Linked DNA regions of Homo sapiens: region 1 is linked to region 2. The links come from fine-mapping of genetic effects on gene expression. Tissue or cell type: whole blood. Region 2 holds a variant in brackets; the other region holds the start of a gene. All regions are shown on one strand. Distances are from middle to middle.

Region 1 (9,599 bases), 38 kb after region 2:
GGAGAATGTAACCACCACCATAATCTGTGACCTGCAGAGCCCCGAGGTGACACCCAACTCTCCCTTTTTCTAGCACACGTGTGCTTAGGACGGTTGAGGCCATAGCGTGGATGCTACTCAGAGTACTATTTTTTAAAACTTTTGCTTGACACAATACCGTTAGAGTTTTCCCGAATCACTAAAAACGTCTCAGAGCATGGTTTTTTTGCTGCGGAAGCTCCGGGGCATCGGAGGACCCTGGGCCTGAGTGTCCCTCCACTGCTGGCTGTCCCTGCCATCCTGGAGCCCACAGAGAATGGGGCTCTGTCCTGTCTTGGGCACTCAGGAGATGGACAAGGCTCTCAACGGGAGGCAGGGTCTCGTCATCCCCAGGACAGGGAGAGCCGATGCCTGAGCCCACGCAGCAGTGAACATCCTGGGAAGGAAGTGTTGAACCCCAGTCCCATCGTTTCCCTAAGAGCAACCACAGAAGTCCCGTCATGGGAGTCAATGTGTGTGCGGCTCCGTGTGCATGAGAAGAGGAGGTACAGGGCAGGCTGCATGGCCCCCACACTCCCTCAGGGCCAACTGCACCAAGACCCCAACCAGCCACACAGGACAGTGACCAGGTGAGCAGGTGGAGCGGCCCTTGGTCCCTGTGACCTCCTGGCCTCATTCCGGAGCATGTGGAGGTTTACTTGGGATCAGCGCTTCTGGGGCAGGGGACCTGCACTCCACCTGCCACTTCTGGGAGAGAAGGAGAGAAAGTTAGGGTGGGCTACAGCCAGCCAGCCCCTGCCCCTGGCAGCTCAGGCCTGAACCCCCAGGATCTTCCACCCTGTGAAGACCAAACAGGCCCAGCCAACCAGGTGCAGGTTGGGGAGGGCACCCCCACCTTGGCCTGCGTGGAGCCCCGAGTCCTGGGGCATCCTGAGGGCAGCTCCCGGGGCACCCCATCTAAATTGCACACACGCTCAGGCCCTAAATTAAAATGTCACAGGCCGGTTGGGGAGGCTCGGGTTTCCTGGCCACAGAACATGAGCCTGCTTGATAAAACAATTTTGGTTTTGATAAATGTGGATTTTCTGTGGCAGAGACAAAGGCGCCCTTGAGTCCAGAGGGGAGCCTAAAACAGCACATTGCTGAAAAGTATTTCCTGATAATATTTTTAGCACCTGAGAAAAACATTTTTTTTTCTCTTTTTTGCCTGCAGAGTTGTGTTGTTTTTTTTTTGTTTTTTTTTTTTTTAATGAAATGTAATGCCCAGCAGCAGCGGGGCCTTTTGTTAACCCCCAGCTCCCCGGGCCCGGCTGAAAATCTGCACAGGGTGCAGGCCGAGGCTGGTCAGCAGGGTACAGGCCCGAGGAAGTGTGGCCTCTCTGGGCCATGAGCAGGGTCTGGCCCACTGCCAGCCACGCCCCAGGCCCATGAGCTCTGACTCTCTGGGACGAGGACGGGCCTGAGCGTTTCCAGCACTGCTCAGCGACCCCCGTGAGGCCCACCAGCCCACCCGCCTGAAGAAACAGGCCTCCACTCGGTGCAGCCACTGAGTGCCACTGTGTGCCCCAAGGTGCCCTGGGCGGCCCTGCCCCCAAGTTGACCCAAACCCAGCCCAGAAATGGGTTGTTACCCAGGTCCCTGTCTTGTGTGCTCAAGAGAAGGTCAGCAGTGGGGAGAAGGGCGCCTGGCCTGGGCAGCTGGCTGGGAGGCAGCACCCCAGGCTGGGCTCTGAGAGCAGAGCAGGAGCATGTGGTGGGAAGTGGATGGGTAGTAGGGACAGGGCAGGAGGTGGGCCAGCCCTAGTGGGGGTCAAAGCCTCACGTCCCCATGACAACACCTCTTCAGCGGAGAAATCCTGCCCTGGGGTTGGCACTGCCGCCTCCCACCTTCGCAAACTCACCGGAGGGGCCTTCCAGCCAGGCCCCAAATGCACTGAAAAGAGGGTAGAGGGCTGCCAGGTTTTTCTAGAAAAAAGACAAATAGAAAAGCGTTCTCCCTGATTCCCGCCACGGTGACGCCTGGCAGCTCTGTTCCCAACGCTGCTACATGGGGCCTTGTCCTGACTCCACGGCCTGTGCCAGCCAGAGGTGGGAGCAGCCCTCCCTGACCAGGGAGGCCAGGGCTGGGCTGAGGAAGGGGTTAAAGCATGTTCTTGAGGCCCCACGTATGGGCATATGCTGCCTCCGTGCATGTGAATAAGTATGCATGTGTGCGTGGACGTGTGTGCATGTGCGTGGAGACATGTCTCTCCTTGCCAGGCTCTCACCGAGAGCCGGCCTCAAGTAGGGATTCTACAGTTCCACGCCCTCTCTGGTGCCTCCCTCCAAAGACAGGAGGCCTTGACCTTTCTGGCCCTGGAACCATGGCTGTGCTGCTGTCCTGGAGCTCTGAAAGCTGGGACGGTGACCTAAGGGCTAACTGCGGGACAGAGCCCTTCCCCTCCCAGGCCCAGTTTGCCTCTCTGCAAACAGAATTGCCACCCCATGCAGGGTGGGAGAGGCGCCAGGGGCAAGCTTTCAGGAGGTGCCAGTGCAGGGTCAGCTCCTCCTTAACAATTCTGCACCCGGCCCTGACACCAAGTCTAAAGGGTCATGAACCTCTGAGTGAAAACACCAAGTGCAGGATCTGTGAGAACCGGCAACACCCAGTCACACGCAGAGAACCCTCCGCTGCTTCTTAAAAATAACATTGACTGTGCCTGGCTCTCACTGAAAAACAACACGTGCTCACTTGAGATATTTCAGAAGATACAAACGCAAAGACAAACAAAAAACCACCCAGCACCTCAGTGGTAGATGCAGTTACCATCAGCCCGGCCTTTCCTGCTTGTCTTCGAGGGGTGCACTCTTATCTTTGGGGGCCCCAGTGTGGCACGCAGCCAACACCACCCAACACCAGGATCTAAGAGAAGAGACCACGGTGGGCCGGGTGAGTTCCAGGAATCAGACCCTGCCATGGGCCTGGGGACATAGAGGTGGTCCCGGCTGAGGCCCTGAGGAAGGACAGACAGGCAGCCCAGGCCAGCAGCCCAAGAGACAGGGGGCAGGGCTGGCAGGCCACAGGGTGGGGACCCTGAATTCAAATACTGGGACTCAGAGTCCTGCCCCCACCTGCCAAGGCCGGTGTCATGCACGCACTTGCCCCCAGGGCCTGAGTGGGTCAGTCTTCCCCACGGAGGGTTTGCTTTACCCAGGGGTCGCCCCGAGGTCCCGAGCCTCCCAGGAATTTCTCCTGATGCGGCCACGCAGATGCAAACACTTTGTTCCATGCCTCCTAGTCTCCGGCCCGGGCTCTTCCTCACACAGACCCAGGCAGGGAGTGGGCTCCGGGGTTAGTCTGCCCCTGTGGCTGGAAGCCTGGCGTCCCCATGCTCAGGGCTGGGAAGGGGGCAGCACGGAACGGGTTCATTCAGGCACTGCCTGGCCAGGGTCCCCTCCCGCCCCCCGCGTGATGACACGCCTTCAGGGCGGGCCCAGCGTCTCAGGCCTTAGGGACACAGGTCTGTCCCAGGACGGCACTGAGGGCCCAGGCGCCTCCACCAGGGTAGGGACCCAGGGCGGAGCATGGCCCCACCACAGGGCGCGCGCCCGCAGAGCCCTCACCTTGCCTGTGCCCACGCCAGGGGACTGAGCTCCCCGCGCGCCCGCGCCCTCCCACGGGGCCTGGCGCTTTAAGAGACGCCCGATTTGCATGGCCCCGCCCCCCCGAGTGACCGCCGGGCTGGATATTTAAATCGTGGCCCCAGGGGCGGGGCTGGCCCCGAACGCGGTCCCGCCCGGCGCTTTCCTCTGCGGAGCTGCGGCGAGAGCGCGGCCCGGCCGAACGGGCGCGGGACGCGGAGCCCCCGACGGCGCGGCCAGCGGGCGCGCCCGCGCTCCCCGCACCCCGCCTGGCCCTGCCGGCCACCCCCGCGCGCAGCCTAGTCCCCCAGCGCCCTGCTCCGCCAGCGCCCCGTCCCGCCCGCACACCTCCGCGATGCGGCACGGCGTCGCCTGGGCGCTGCTGGTGGCCGCGGCCCTGGGGCTTGGGGCGCGCGGGGTGCGCGGCGCGGTGGCCCTTGCCGACTTCTACCCGTTCGGCGCCGAGCGCGGCGACGCCGTCACCCCCAAGCAGGACGACGGCGGCTCGGGGCTGCGGCCGCTCTCGGTGCCCTTCCCGTTCTTCGGTGCCGAGCACTCCGGACTCTACGTGAGTAACCCCCGGGCTCGCGGGGCGCCCGGGAGGGGAGGGAGCTGCGCCCCGGCCGCTGCCCGCCGGGCCCGGACTCCCGCCGCCGCCGCCAGCCACTTGGCACCGGGGCGGCCCGAGGTGGAATGAGGACAGCGCTTCCTCCTCGGCGGCCAAGGCCGGACAGCGGCCCGCGGGAGAGGCGCGCGGGCGGGGCGGGGGCGGCAGCCGCCGGGCACCGAGGCGGGGGCGAGTGGAGCGCGGCGCCCCGGCCCCTGCCAGACCTGCCGAGCGCGTCTTCCCGGCGCCTGATTCCCAGGGGAGAGCAGGGGTCCTGGTACTGCCCTGGTTTTCACACATGGCAATGTGGCCGTGGGCACGGGCTTCCCGGGCCTCAGTTTCCCAAGTGGGGCGCCGGGCCTGCGAAGGTTGCAGCCCCTCCTTGGGCCATTTCAGCCCCGCCCCCCGTGGACGCCAGTGCGGCCCAGAGCCAGGAGGCTGGACCCCTTGCCCAGGCGCTCAGGGCAGGGCCTGCTTCTTCGCTGACCCTCCTAGGCGGGCTAGCAACAGGCTTGCCCCTCCCTGCCGTCCTCTCCGCAGTCTGGGGGCTGGCCGCTCAGGCTCAGACTCTCCAAACAGGACTCCCAGTGGGACTCCTGGGGCCAGGGACTCATGACAGCAGGCTCAGCTCAGCTGAAGGAACAGGCCCGAGTGCCGGTTCTGTCTCCATGGCTCCCAGAGTGTGACCCCAGGCCAAGCCCTTATGGCAGCCCAGGGAATGAAATGCACCTGGTAACTGCATGGAGCACTCGCCCTGAGTAGGCCACGGTGCACTGGTACCTGGTGGTTCCCTGAAACACCCCAGATCATATCTAGAAAACTGCTGGGCCAGCCTCAAGTAGAGTCCCCTCCAGCTCCGTCACCACGGCCACCTCCACCATCAGCCCTCTCATACCCTCGCCCACCTCCAGCCTCAACCCACTGCCAGCCACATCGCCTCTGCCATCTGTGCTGCCCGGAGTAACACCACCTGTACTGCCAACTCCTCCGTCAACACCACCTCCTTCAACCCCACCACCAGCAGCACTGCCTCCACCACCACCTTCCCCATGGTCCCCAGCTTCCCGTCGTCACCATCCACATCCTCTGCATGGTTGTCATCATCCCTCCCCACCTCCATCCACAGGGCCTCCTCCACCACATGCCCTCTAGTGCGCCTCCCACCCCACAACTGCCAACACCATCCACAGCGCCCACTGCGTTTTCCACACCTGCTCAGGAAGGCCTCCCCACCTCGGTGGCAGCACTGGGTGACCTGACTGGTGGGAGGGGCAGCCATGCTGTCGGTGCTACCCCCTGAAAGTCCCTCTGGACCGGGACTTGGACAGAGGAACGGGACTGACTCCTGGAAGTACGAAGTGGGTAGGACAGAATGGTGCTCAGCGTTGGCCCGAGCTGGAGGAGGCCTGTCCACTTGAGGTATGGGACACTCACATTGGCACCATCCGAACAGAACTCAAGAGGCTCCTTAAGCATTTGGGCCAGGCTCAGCTTTCCCACTCACAGTCACAGGTGAAAATATTATTAAAATGGTTAACCCACTTAACAGCCTCACCAAAAACATCTGCCCTTGCCAGAGCAACTAGGGGAAACAGCTCTAACGTGGGAAGATCTGCTAGGAGAACTAGGGTTTCGTCAGAAATGAACCTTCTGGCTGCTAACAAAACATTTATCTCCATCGGAGCTTTTTCCTGAAACAAAGATATTATTTGAAAACCATTTGCCGATGTGGACACAGTGCCTGCAGTGCACTTCACCTTTCTGTTTGCTCAGCAGGAGGCTTGAGGCTGCGTTGCCCAGGACACCTTGCCTGAAGTAACTGTGCGGACTCTGTGGTCAAGCAGGGAGAGAGAAAGGGGTGCTTGGCAGCAGGTTAGGGCTGAAGCCAGGTGGAAAGAAGGGAGGCATTTGTTCTGAAGGAAGTGGACCTGCCTGGGGCCTCCCACGCCCACCCAGGCCGAGCGGACCCTCTTCTGAGGCCCCTGGCTCTGGCCCTTGTCCAGCTCCAGTCTATAGGGGCCTCGTGTCTGCTGGCCCTGGACTCAGACTCCCATGTCAGGCCCAGCCAGGACCCTCCAGCCCCCATCCCACTGCAGTGACCTCTGCGCTCCTCCGCCCCCAGCCTGTCGCTTGACCAAGAGTAGGCTTGTTGTCTGAATGAATGAATGTGCCTCCCTCTGACACTGCCTGCAAGTCACAGGTAGAAATTAGAAGTGCTCTTGCATGAGATGGGTGCTTCTTCTGTCTTCATCAGAAATAGCACATGGATTACTGCCCTAGCAAGACAGCTCTGCCACACATGGAGTGGCCCCCTTTCCAGAAGGGACCCATTGTTTTGCTTCTTTCTCATGTCATAGTAGCTGTATGTGTGTGGTAAGTCGTAAGGCTCTGAAAAGTGTTGAAAGTGCATTTTATTGCTAAGGTTCTACACACAGACAAAGATAATGCAGCCGAGGAGCGTGGCGCGCCGAGGAGTGTGGCGTGCTGAGGAGTGTGGCATGCTGCCGCTATCCTGCCATGCAGGAACTGCCAGTGTCTGCATTAAGACGGAGCTTGCCGCGGTCTGTGGGGCTTATGCAGGTGGAGTGGTTTCCTAGGGGCAGGTGCAGGGAATGAGAGACGAAATCTTCCTGGTGCCCCCTACACTGAAGCTCCTGGCTCCAAGCACTGCCCCCATCCACAGCATGGTCTCTGGGCCATGGGAGGATCTCAGTTTCTTTGGCATCAGGACCCCCGACAGAGCCCTGAGCAGAGGCAGGGAGGATTTGAGGGTCAAGAGTGGGTGGTGCCCTGCAGAGCCCGCAGGCAAGAAGGAGGAATGTGGACAGTCAGACTGACCCTCGCTGGTGCTGGCTAAACCCCCACTCTGTGCCCTGAGGCTTCGTGCCACACCGCAAGTCTGCTGGCTCTGGCTCTGCACAACATTACCATCCAGGCACAGTCCCGGCCCTACCCCTCCCAGAACACGGAGCCCAGGGCAGCTGCTCTGGTGTGGGAGTTCACATGCAGCCTGTGACCTTTGCCTGGTCATTTCCTCCCTGAGCCTCTGTCTCCCCATCTGTGTGGTGAAGCTCCCCCATCAGGTCATACCTGTGACACACCCCATCACTGTCACGGTTGTGTGGTCGCCAGCTCCAAGCCATCTGGAAAATCCACCCTGACCCACAGGGACTGTCTCAGTGGGACCGAGGCCTGCGCATGAGTGGATCTGGGAGCAGACATGTGGGGAGAAATCACTGCCATCTCTGCTCTCTTCTGAGCTCATGGAACACCCCAGCAAATGCAGGAGCCCCTTGGCTGGGAGGAGGGTCCTGGGCTTCCCCTTGGCTGCCCTATTCACTGAGGTTCCCGGGCTGGCCCACCCCCTGCTATGGGCTTGGCCAAGGTGGTCCTGCCCCTCATCAGCATGCCCTTCTTGCTGCTGCCTGGGTGTGACGGAAGCAGATGGAAGGGGATCCTGGGGAAGTGGAATGGGGCTGGAGTCGAGGAGGATGCTGGAGTGAGAGAGCCTGATGACTCCAGGTCAAGGCCATGAGCCCAGGACAGCTGTGATCTGCCTGGACCTCACAGGCAGCCCCTGAGAGGATGGAGCAGGACGTCATGCCCAGTGCAGATGAGGAAACCGAGGCTCAGAATGCAGATTCAGGGGCCTTCAGACTCCTGCGTCCAGCTGCCTCTTACTGTGCCACCCCAAACTCAGTGGGACCCAAACAGAAGTCCTGCTTCCTCCCTGGCGCCCACCCATCTCCATGAATAAACCCCTGAGAGCCTCCCCAATGCCTCCCTCCTCTCCCTCACCCTCCACGTCAGCAGCAGCTCCGCCTGCCTCTCTACTTGGACCACTTCCCAGCTGTCCATCCCCACTTGCCTGGACACCTGCAGCACCCCCTTGCTGACCTCCAGCTCTTGGCCTTTCCCTCCAGCCTGCCCTCCTCTGTGCAGAGTGACCAAGGGAGCCATACAAAACACCAGTGGGATCCTGTCTCTCCTCGCCAGAATCCCCGCTACGCTTCCCTGCCCCCCTCCGCCCTCCCCCGGGCCCCCCGCTCAGGCACTCCCCCAGCCCCACCCTCTGTGCTCACTGCAGCTTGTTGGTTCTGACCTCAGCTGGGTTGCTCCTTAGTTTTCTTGTTTGGGAGGTGTTGGGATGTGCACCCCATGAAGGCAGGGACCACATCCATCCTCATGCCACCATTCTGGTGTTGGGCTCAGAATAGGCCTCAGACGACAGCCTGGGGCTGCAGTGGTGGTGGTGCCCTGGTGAAGGACTCTCTCTTCCACCCCTGCTGAGGCCAGAGGATGCATGCAGCAAGATGCCTGCACCCTGAGCAGTAAGTCCTCCTGTGCCACATCCACATGGTGGGCTCATGGTCTTGGCCACCAGCACATTTCTGCACCGTGTGTTCCCCAAAGCAGAAGCAGTCCCACCTTCCCTGACAGGGTGAGCCTTAGCCTGGGAGTCAGCTTTTCCACACAGAGATGCAGGACCTGCACACTTCAGCCTCAGCCCACAGCCGACTCCCTCCCAGGACTGGCCTGACCCATGGCACAGGCACAGCTGTTGGAACATGGTAGTGTGGTAGGGGGTCCTGGCTGCATGCTGGGCCCCATAAGGAAAGTCTCTGTCTGCACTGCCCCACCTCTGCAGGTGACCTGCTTAGAGAAGAGACTCACAGGGAAGACAGGTCAGTTTGTGTGATACTGACATGAAGTGTTATCTGTGACACTTCTGTGTGTGATGGGCCACGAGAAGCCATAAGGCTGCACACAGGAGCAGCAATTTGTAAAGGTGACCAAAAAAATGTTGGTTATCATTTATACTGCCCTCTGCCTTCTAACATCTCTGGTTTCTGATGAGCCCTTTCTTGGCTGAGTGAGCTGGAATAGGGCTGGAAGCCCCTGGGCTGGACAGGGCCAGGCTGTCCTATGTGAGGAAGGAGAGAAGCTGATGCATGTATGGAGGGGAAGATCCTGGAGTGGGGATGAGCCTGGGGGTGAGGCTGGCCTCTGCTTGAGGCACAAAATGATCCCCACATCCCACCAGGGGAGCCATGAAGAAAGGAGATGTATATAGGTAGTGGGCACAACACTGATAAAACTGCAGTCTGAGCATTTGTTGTGGCTTCTTGTTCTGGCTTCCTGTGAAATCTTCAGCAAAACCCTTACCACACCTTAATGACTGTGGCCTTGATTGTCTTTCTTGTAAATGCTAAAAAAAAGAAGTGTAGTACTGATTTTTTTTAATCCAGCCTGACAAATCTCTTCCTTTTAATTAGAGTGTTTTAGACCATTTACATTTAATGTAATTATCAATATGGTTGAATTTTAACCTATCATCTTCCTATTTGTTACATCTGTTCTCTATAGTTTCTTCTTTTGGATTTTTAAAAATA
Region 2 (9,599 bases):
CTGGACAGGCAGCAGCAAATATGGCACTGGGCAGGAGGGCTATAGGGAGGAGCGCTCTGGAGAGGAGGGCTCTGGGGAGCAGGGGAGGAGGACTCTGAGGCCTGTGCCTCCAGCTCATGGGCAAGGCTGGACACCCACTGTTATTGCTTGCAGAACGCCAAGGCTTCAGCCCATCTGTGATGGGGCACCAGGTCCCGCATGGGAGATGAAGAGACTGGGCAGGGCTCACAGCGAGGGTGGCCAGAGCCCAGCGATAGGACATAGATGGGGGCCTGGCTCACAGTGGGGGGTGGCCAGAGCCCAGCGATAGGACATAGATGCAGGAGTTACAGCAGGATCTCCAAGGGCCCAGGCGGCCTGAGGAGAGGCTGTTTGTGTTGAGGTCGGGGCTGCTGTCCTGGGTGGCAGGGGCTGGCCCTGAATAGACACAGGTGCGAGGGTGCCCTGGGCAGGGAGGGAATGGGCTCAAGGCACCGGACGCCACTCCTCTCCTTGCCAGGAACAGGTAGGATTGAGGGCGAGGCTGATCGCCAACCCCCAGCTCTCTGCCCTCCCTGGCCACACACACCCCATTAGCTGGGCCCACACCTGCCTCCTGCCTCTGTCCTTCCAGCTCCCAGCATGTTCAGTGACGAGGCCGTTCATTCCCGTACTTGTTGGCTTATTTTAAATTCAGGCGAGCCTTTCCTCCCTGTCCCTGGCAAGGACGCAGGGTTGGACACCTACCTGACTGGCGTTGAATGTATGGTTCAGTGTGCAGTGAACAGAACACAGGCCATGGTGCCAGGCGCGGGAGGCAGCCCCCTTCTCTGCCCATTCTGAACGGGAGCCCTTCTCACTGACTGCACAGAGGCACGCGCAGGCCGCCTGCTGGGGGGCCGGGGCGTCCAGGCAGCGGGGCCTTGGGGGACGCTCGGTGACTCGGAGCCGGGATGGAGGGCTTGTGCCCCATCCCCAGGGCACTGCGCAGCGGGAGAGGGCGCTGCAATGAGGAGGCGGCTGCTGGAGTGTCGCTTCACCTCCTCCTGCCTGATGCCACAACCCGGACTCCTAGTCCCTTCAAGCAGGGCTGCCCAGAGGAGCTCCTGGCAGCCCAGGGGAGACTTGCCCCTCACTCCATGAAGCCCCACCCTGCTCTGTTCCTGCCCCTGAGGCCTGGAGGGTTCCACGGGGCCCAGGAGGACCAAGCTTGGCATCGGGCCTGTGACCATGCCCCTCCCTCCTCCCGACCACTGGCCCAGCAGCTCTCTTGGCTCCACCCCGTGGGCAGGGACCCAGGAAAGCCCTCCTGGGGCCCTGGGAGCTGATGCCTCTGGCTCACAGAGGGGCCTTCTCTGGAGCCAGTGCTGGCTTCTGGAGCCTTCTCTTGAGCTGGCCCTGAGTCTCCCCCGGACTCGGTACCAGGCCTGCCAGCCAGCCGGCCTTCCTGGGGAGCTCGTTAAGGGTTCCTTTGCCACCTCGGCTCAGAAAATGGAAATTAAAACTGTTGAGAGGAGCGGGAGGAGAGGAATGCCGGCCAAGGAGCACCAGGCGCCAGATGACAGGACAGCGTGCGCCCCTAGGCTGAGTCACCACTGCCATCGGGCTCCCAGCCGATGCCCTGTCCCTGAGGCCCTCACAGGGGTATCCTGCAGCCAGGCCTCAGGGGCACCCATCACTGGCAGTGTTGGGGCATGCTGAGGCACAGAGCCATGGCCTAGTCACCCAAGATGGCCCTTCTCAGTCCAGAGAGACCAGAGGGGGTTGTAAAGAATGACGACAGGAGGCAGCAGCATGGCTCCTTTCCCAAGAGCAGGGGGCACAGGCTGCAGGAACCCCCACCCTAGCAGAATCCAGGTGGACAGGAGGGGCTCCAGAGATCTGGCACAGGGGCAGCCATGTGGGCACCTGTGCCCCCAGGAACACAAAGCCAGCTCTGGAGGGAGCCATCCCCCACCAGCCGCCCCCCGCCAGCCGCCTGCTGCTGCCTGGAGGCTTGGTCCAGTCCCCTGAACCCAGGGGTGCAGAGCCTGAGCAGGGCAGGGCTCGGACCCTTCATGTTGAGGACACTGAGGCCCAGGAAGCTGAGACCCCCTGAGCCCCATCTGCCCTGCTGCCGCAACCTGGGCAGGGGTGCAGTGGGGAGGGCCTTGAGAGGAAGCGGGGTGGTGTCCCGAGGGGCCTGGGGCTTGGGGTGAAGAAGGTGGTATTTGTCCATGAACAAGGGGCCATGGGCTGAGCCTGGGGCCTCCTGGCCCGAGGATCCCTGCTGGCCACACTGCCCCAAGGCCCGAGAGGACACCTCGGGTGGTGTGTGCGACAGGGAGCCGACTCCAGCTGAGCTCAGTCCCAAATGGAGGGTAGAGCTGCCCAGTGTGTGGTGGTCCCTGTAGGGATGGGCCCTGCCCCAGGGCGCAGGCTGAGCTGAGGGGCTGCCTCCTGCTGTGTCCGTGGGCACTCACACATCACAGCTGTCAGGGGCCGTGGATGTCTCCTCATCCCAGCAGCCTGTTTGACAGTTTAGGAAACCAAGGGCCAGTTACCCCGGGGCTTGCACGATCAGCAGGACCCGGCTCCCCCTCCCAGGCCACTGCAACACCTCTCTCTCCAGGGTCCTGGCCTTACCTCACCCTCCACTGCTGGGCCCAGCTCCCTGGTGCCACCGTGGGCTCCCTTCTCCCCGCAGGCCACCATCAGTGCCACGACTGAGGAGCTGAAGGCCCTCCAGGCCCAGTTTGAGGATGCCATCACAGCCCATCAGAGGGAGACCACGGCCCTACGCGAGAGCCTCCAGGACCTAGCGGCTGAGCGGGGCGATGTGGAGAGAGAGGTGAGAGGCAGGGCTGGGGGGCTCCTGGGGATGCCAGAGGACAGGAGAAAGCAGGGCAGGTACCAAGAGAGGAGAGAGTGGGGGTGCCAGGAGGAAAGAGAGGCTGTACCACAGAGAAGGGAAGAGTAGTCCCTGGGACTAGGAAGAGGCAAACAGCCATAGGGGCATGGGACAAGGGGCCCTCACACCACGCACTAAGCCAAGCCCAGGCTCTCAGGGCAGATGAAATGGTGCCTGGCCCAGGCCATTGGCTAAGGGAAGCTGACACCAGTTTTCAGGGGAAAGAAGGCATCATTTCTAAGCCTCCTGAAGGGGTGAGTTTGACTTCAGGGTGAAAGTGGGCCTGGCTGAGTCAGGTGGACTTGGCTGGGTCACGGTGCCAGCTGAGTGGGAAGGGAGCTCCCTGGAGGCTGCCGTGGGTCCCGACGCGGCTCCTGCTGCCCTGCTTGTCCTGGGAAGGTGCACAGCACACCTGCCAGCTCCCAGGGCACTGGAGGGGCACACCTGCCGCTGGGAGGGCCAGCATGTGAAAGGGTGGCCAGAGCCACGCAGCCAAAGGCTCCAGGAGTCCAGCCGGCCCCCTCGTTCCACGCACAGTTAAGAAAGTGGAGTCAGGAAGGGCCTGACTCTGGAGGCACTGGGGCAGCTGTCGCCTCCCAAAGCCTTCCCGAGAGACAGGCATGACCTGGGGCGAAGGGGAATTCGGACCCTTGGCCAAGAGGCCCATCGAGCCATCCACTGAGGCACGGGGAGGCCCTAGACAAGCTGGGCTCTGCCCACACAGCAGGAGGCGCGGACTTCACTGGGCTGGACACTAAGGTCGGGGGAGGCTGGATTTGGGGCAGCAGGCAAGAAAATAAGTGGGTTAGTGGAGATTTCGGGGTGTGCCTGGGCCTGGCCAAGGGCCCGAGGTTGACACGGAGGCCCCCAGGAGCCACATGATGGTGACGTGGGGTGGGGGACAGTCTTGGGCAGGGGGCAAGAGTGGCCAGGGCTAGGCTCACCTGGGCTCAGCGGGCAGGCAGATTGGAGAGGCATTTCTGAGGGGGGTTGGCAGGACGGGGGGACGCCTGTGTGTGGCAAGGGCAGGAGGGCACGCGGATCTGGGCTAGAGGAGGGGAGGGTCAGCTGGAGCCCCAGCGGGGCCCACGGGGACGGGGCGACCTCGCACACTCCCTGGGCTGCTTGCCAAGGCTGGAGGCTGCGCAGCTGACCTGGTGCTGGAGCGAGCGGCTGGCGCACACCACGCCCCAGAGGCCGGGCCGGCCGGCAGGGGAGAGTGAGAAGAGGGGCTCAGCCCTCCCCAAGCACCCCCGAGAGGCAGGCTGAGAGAGGAAGAGAACATGATTTAACATGACCGGCTGTTTACATTGGCCCCAAGGAGAAAGGTCTCCTTTCAACAGATTTCAAAGTCAGGCC[C/T]GGTCAGCGACCACACGGGGAAGCAAAACGAGATTGCAAAACTGGGGGCAGCAGGGGGAGGGGGAGGGGGAGGTGTGGAGAGGGTGGGGGTGCATTGGTTCTGCTGGCCTCAAGGAAGGGAGTGCAGGCCTCATGGGAAGGTCAGGCTCTCAGAGGAGCAGAACAGAGCAGGGTGCCCAGAAAGGGAGTGGGGGCTAAAAGCTGAGGACGGTTAAGGGGGACAAGAGGAACAATCACAGAGAAAAGCAAGCAGAGCCCGTGCAGGCGCCAGGCTGGCCCAGGGTCACCATGGAAACCATAACTTTTTCACAACCTTTAAACTGGAGGAACTTCCAGTCTCTCAGACCCTGCCTGAGGTCCACACGTGTGCACACACATGCATACACATCATCCACGCAGTGAGACCACACACACCGGTGTACACTTGACACTCAGAGTGGTGTGTGCATGCTGAATGCAGACACACAAGCCTCACACACTCACACACACTCACGCTGGAATCACATATGGACACCACACAGTGCACACAGGCGTGCACAGAAACGTGCACCAAGCACACACACGCATGTGTGCGCACACATGCACATACGTAGTGCATGCACAGGCATACAGACGTGCACACACATACATGCACACACGTATGCACACCACATACAGAGTGGACACCTGCACTGGCTCACACACACACACTCATCACACTCACACACTCATCACACATACACTCACACACACACACGCACTCACACATACACTCATGACACATGCACACGCTCATCACACACGCTCATCACACACACGTACACACACACGTAGTGCATGCACAGGCATACGGACGTGCACACACATGCATGCACACACACGTATGCACACCACGTACAGAGTGGACACCTGCACTGGCTCTCACACACACACACTCATCACACACACGCACTCACACATACACTCACATACACTCACACACACGCACGCACACATACACTCATGACACACACGCACACACTCATCACACATGCTCATCACACACATGTACACACACACGTAGTGCATGCACAGGCATACGGACGTGCACACACATGCATGCACACACACGTATGCACACCACGTACAGAGAGGACACTTGCACCGGCCCACACACACACTCATCACCCACACACACACACACACACGCACGCACACACGCGCACACACATACACTCACACTCACACGCACTCACACTCACACACACACACACACTCTCACCCTCCCCTGCTTTCCCTCCACAGCCCCTCCTCCCTGCAGAGCTCTGGAGCTGCCTCCCTGTAGGAGATTTTTAAAAGAGGCTGTTTATACAATTTCTAGCAAAGAAATAATTATTATAATCACATTAAGTGATTTGGCCGTAAAATTCCTGTAAAAGGGATGGCTGTTCTCATGAGGCAGAGGGAGCGGGTGGGGTGGGGGCGGGAGTGGGGGCAGGCCCTCCCCTGCATTTGTTTTGCTTGTTTTCATCTCCTCTGCGCTGGGAAATGAAAACAGTTTCTTTTATGATGCATGGGCCCTTTTGCTGGTCCTTGACCTTCTGGGCGGGTTTCTGCTGAGCTCGGCGGAAAATGCTCAGCACGGTCATGGCTCCCACGTGTGGGGGTGGAGGGGAGCGGAGGGGAGGCTCTGGCCCTTCCCAAAAACAGAACAACAATAACAGCGGCAGCCTCGGGAGCCAGGCCGGTCGGGGGCCTGGACAATATCCCGTGAAAACAGCCAGAAAGAGGGGTTTGCTTTTGTCAAGCCAGCGACTTGACATCGCGGAGTCTTTGTGGCTTCCATCTCTGGGCATGCCCCGCTGGCTACCTCCGCCTCCTCCTCTGGGACACACGAGAGCCGGAATGGAGCCTTCTCCAGGGTTTCTGGTCAGGCCCAGAGCTCAGACCTGGGAGGCAGGAGACTGGGCGCCAGGGCCGAGCCCCAGCAAGTCCCCACCCCCAGAGCGTAGGTGCTGGGGAGGGCCTTCCTGCCAGGCTGCAACTGTCCTCCGGACCCCACCCCTGGGTTCTCCCGGGCACTGTGAGATGCCTGGTGTCCGGAGCGGGAAACCAAGACCCTCCTCCCACTGCCCCCCCATTGCCAGAGATCCTCCTCCCACTGCCTCCCATGCCAACGGGGGAAGGAAGGCCAAGGGAGTGGGTGAGCCCCCACTGTGGCAGAGTCACTGTGCCGGGGTCACTGGGCCAGGGTCACTGTGCCAGGGTCAGGCCCAGCCTGCCTGCTGAGGCTGCTGCCCACACTAGGACAGGCAGCGGCCTGGGCACCACACTGTCACCTAAGGAGAGGACTAGACGCCGGGGGCAGGAGGTGGGAAGGGCCCCAGGCAGTGACAGTGCAGACACGTGTGCTGAGCCGCATCCCAGGTAGGCCTTGCTTACCAGTGGTCAGCGTCCTGGGGGTCCAGAGAGGCCGCAGCGTGGGGCCGGGCCCAGGGGCTCAAGGTGGGGTCTTCTGGGCTCTTAGGCTGGCCCTGCCTCAGCCCGTGGAAGCCGCCCTGCAGCCTCCGCAGCACTAGGGATTGGTGGCTCCATGGGGTGAGCAAAGCGCATGGGGACCAAGTTGGGCAGGGCACCTGTGCCTGCCACACCATGTCAGAGGCCACAGGCCCCTGTGGCTATCCCTGGAGCAGTGGTCCCCAGCGGGCCTCTAGAGCTGAATGGTCCTCCCCAGGCTGAGAGGCTGCGGGCACAGCTGACCGTGGCCCAGGAGGGACTGGCCGCACTGCGCCAGGAGCTGCAGGGCGTCGAGGAGAGCCGGGAGGGGCTGCACAGGGAGGCCCAGGAGGCCCGCCGGGCGCTGAGTGACGAGGCCCGCGAGAAGGACGTACTGTTGCTTTTCAACAGCGAGCTGCGGGCCACCATCTGCAGGGCCGAACAGGAGAAGGCCAGGTATGGCGGCCACCCAGGAGCAGCTGGGGGTGCCCTGCAGCCTGCTGCCCACCCAGGCCGTAGGGAGGATGGGGCAAGGGGGCTAGGCAGGGGCGTCCTGTTGACTTGGGCCCCACTGATGGTGGGGTAGACATGCCAAGCAGGCCTCCCGCTGCCCAGTCCAAGAGGTCTGCAATGCTGGCCAGTGCGAGGGATGGCTGAGGACATGGACACACCTGTCCCTGCCCACAGGGAGTTCCCATCCAGCAGGCAAGATAGGTCACAGGTGGCCTCCAGGAGGTGGTGCAGAGCTGGGGAGCAGAGGGAGGCCAACGGCCTGGCTGGGGCTCTAGAAAGGCCCCTGTGGGGCAGCTGGGCAGGATGGCACAGCCCTCACAGCAGGTGGCAGAGGTACCAGGCTAGGCTGGATGTTGAGCGTCCGGGAGTGTGACAGAGAGGGGGAGACAGGGAGGGATGAGGTGAGGAGGGGCTGAAGAGGTGGATAGTGGACAGGGGCCATGCGGCCGGCACCGGGACCTGGGTGGACATATGTCTGTAAGGTGACAGGGAACCCTGCAGAGGCTGAGTTTGAGGACACTGTGCAGAGTCAAGACTGGGGCCAGTGCCTCACTAGGGGAGGCAGAGACCTGCTGGGCAGCTGTGCTGGCCCCACCAGGAGGTGCGGGGGCCCCAGCCTGTGGCACCCTCGTCAGTTTTAAGCGGTCCAAGGAGGAGAAGGAGCAGAAGCTGCTCATCCTGGAGGAGGCCCAGGCGGCGTTGCAGCAGGAGGCCAGTGCACTGCGGGCCCACCTGTGGGAGCTGGAGCAGGCAGGGGGGGACGCCCGTCAGGAGCTCCGGGAACTCCACAGACAGGTAGGGCGGCAGGGAGGGGTCAACATCCAACCAGGCACCCTCCCGCCTGGTGGGTCCCGGCTCCTCCCAGGGGAGCCCCCAGCCCTGGCCTTGCTGCCGCCTTTGAACCACTCTGTCCCCAGACTTTGGGCCACGCCCTGCTCAGGCTCACAGGGTCCCTGGTTGGGTCTGTCCCCATGGGGCACAGATGACAAGACTGGAGAGGGCAAAACCAGGAATGCTTTAGCGAGGAGGAAGGGAACCATGCCCAGCAGCACACGGAAGTATCCTACATGCAACACCTTCCGGCATGCACAGCAGCACACGGAAGTATCCTACATGCAACACCTTCCGGTGGCGCTCGGGAACTCAGGCAGGCTAGAGGGGAGGCCTGGCCTCTGCAGGGCAGGGTGCTGGCAAGCCGGGTCCCCCCAAGGCCTGGCTCCCTCCTGTAATGGCGGCCTCGGGGCAGTTGGGTCCAATGCACCCCAGCCACTGCCCACACTCCCTAATCAGTGCCCACCCCGCCCCACCTGAGCCTCCTCCTTGTCCCAGGTCCTCCAAGGAGGTTCCGAGGAGGTCCCAGGTAGGTGTCTACAGAGTGGCTGAGGGTGACAACTCCCAGGGCAAGGTCCTTTGGGGCACCTTAGCCCAAGCCTCCCTAAGTGTGGCCAGCTGCCCTCAAGGGACGTGTGAGCGGAGGCAGGAGGCAGGGAGGCTGCCTGGGTTCCAGCACAGAGACCAGTGACCCTGTCCGTGCGGCCCCACGCTCCCAGGTGAGGACACTGAAGGCCGAGAACCAGAGGAGGAGTGGAGAGGCCCATGAGCTGCAGGCGCAGTGCTCGCAGGAGGTGCTGGAGCTGCGGAGGCAGGCAGCCAAGGCAGAGGCCAAGCACGAGGGTGCCCGGAAGGAGGTGGGAGGGCTGCCTGTGGTCAGAAGGGAAGGAGCTGGGCGTCGGGGAGCAGAGGGAGGAGGCCCACCCCACTTCCTCACTGTCTCCCACGGGCGCACCCCAACATCCCTCCTACAGGTCCTGGGATTGCAGAGGAAGTTGGCAGAGGTGGAGGCCGCAGGGGAGGCCCATGGACAGCGGCTCCAGGAGCACCTCCGTGAGAGCCGGGGGGCTGAGCAGACCCTCCGAGCAGAGCTGCACAGTGTCACCAGGAAGCTGCAGGAAGCCAGTGGTGTGGCTGATGCTCTCCAGGCTCGCCTGGACCAGGCCTGTCACCGAATCCACAGCCTGGAGCAGGAGCTGGCCCAGGCTGAGGGTGCAAGGCAGGATGCGGAGGCCCAGCTGGGCCGGCTGTGCTCCACGCTCCGCCGTGGCCTGGGGCTCCAGAGACAGAGCCCGTGGGCCTCCCCGGAGCAGCCTGGTTCCCCCACCAAAGGTCAGAGTCCTCAGTGGAGGCAGGCGGGCCCCTCTCCCAGCTCAGTCCCTGGCCTGGCACCTCTCTTTCAGGCCTCACAACTCACACAGTGAGGGACTCGGACAGGCAATTGTAGGAACCTGTGGCCGTCTCCCCAACCTCCCATGGCTGGGGCAGCAGAGAGGAAAGGGGAAGGGCGTGTATCTGTCACTGTGTTCCTGTCCACGACCCCTCCGCTGTCACCTCCCGCAGGCTCCGACAG

Evidence for each region. PIP is the estimated chance that this variant, and not a neighbour inherited with it, causes the effect.
Region 1: SNED1 starts here. The variant in region 2 is fine-mapped to the expression of SNED1 in whole blood (TOPMed, PIP 0.98).

What each region holds. Positions count from the first base shown.
Region 1 is chr2:240,994,884-241,004,482 of GRCh38, forward strand. It overlaps SNED1 (sushi, nidogen and EGF like domains 1), which reads left to right and starts at 3,735. Exons shown (of 32, transcript NM_001080437.3): 1 at 3,735-4,167. The coding sequence starts at 3,955. RefSeq lists a silencer at 3,367-3,786.
Region 2 is chr2:240,956,636-240,966,234 of GRCh38, forward strand. It overlaps CROCC2 (ciliary rootlet coiled-coil, rootletin family member 2), which reads left to right. Exons shown (of 32, transcript NM_001351305.2): 20 at 2,666-2,809; 21 at 6,921-7,138; 22 at 7,831-7,990; 23 at 8,746-8,883; 24 at 9,001-9,358; 25 at 9,590-9,599. It overlaps UICLM (up-regulated in colorectal cancer liver metastasis), which reads right to left. Exons shown (of 9, transcript NR_033841.1): 2 at 7,354-7,541; 3 at 6,629-7,111; 4 at 2,605-2,783; 5 at 2,442-2,487; 6 at 727-982. Among named protein-coding and RNA genes, the nearest start is that of UICLM, 6.0 kb to the right of the region's middle. RefSeq lists enhancers at 1,379-1,948, 5,133-5,984, 5,985-6,835. The variant C/T (reference allele first, on the strand shown) is at 4,229.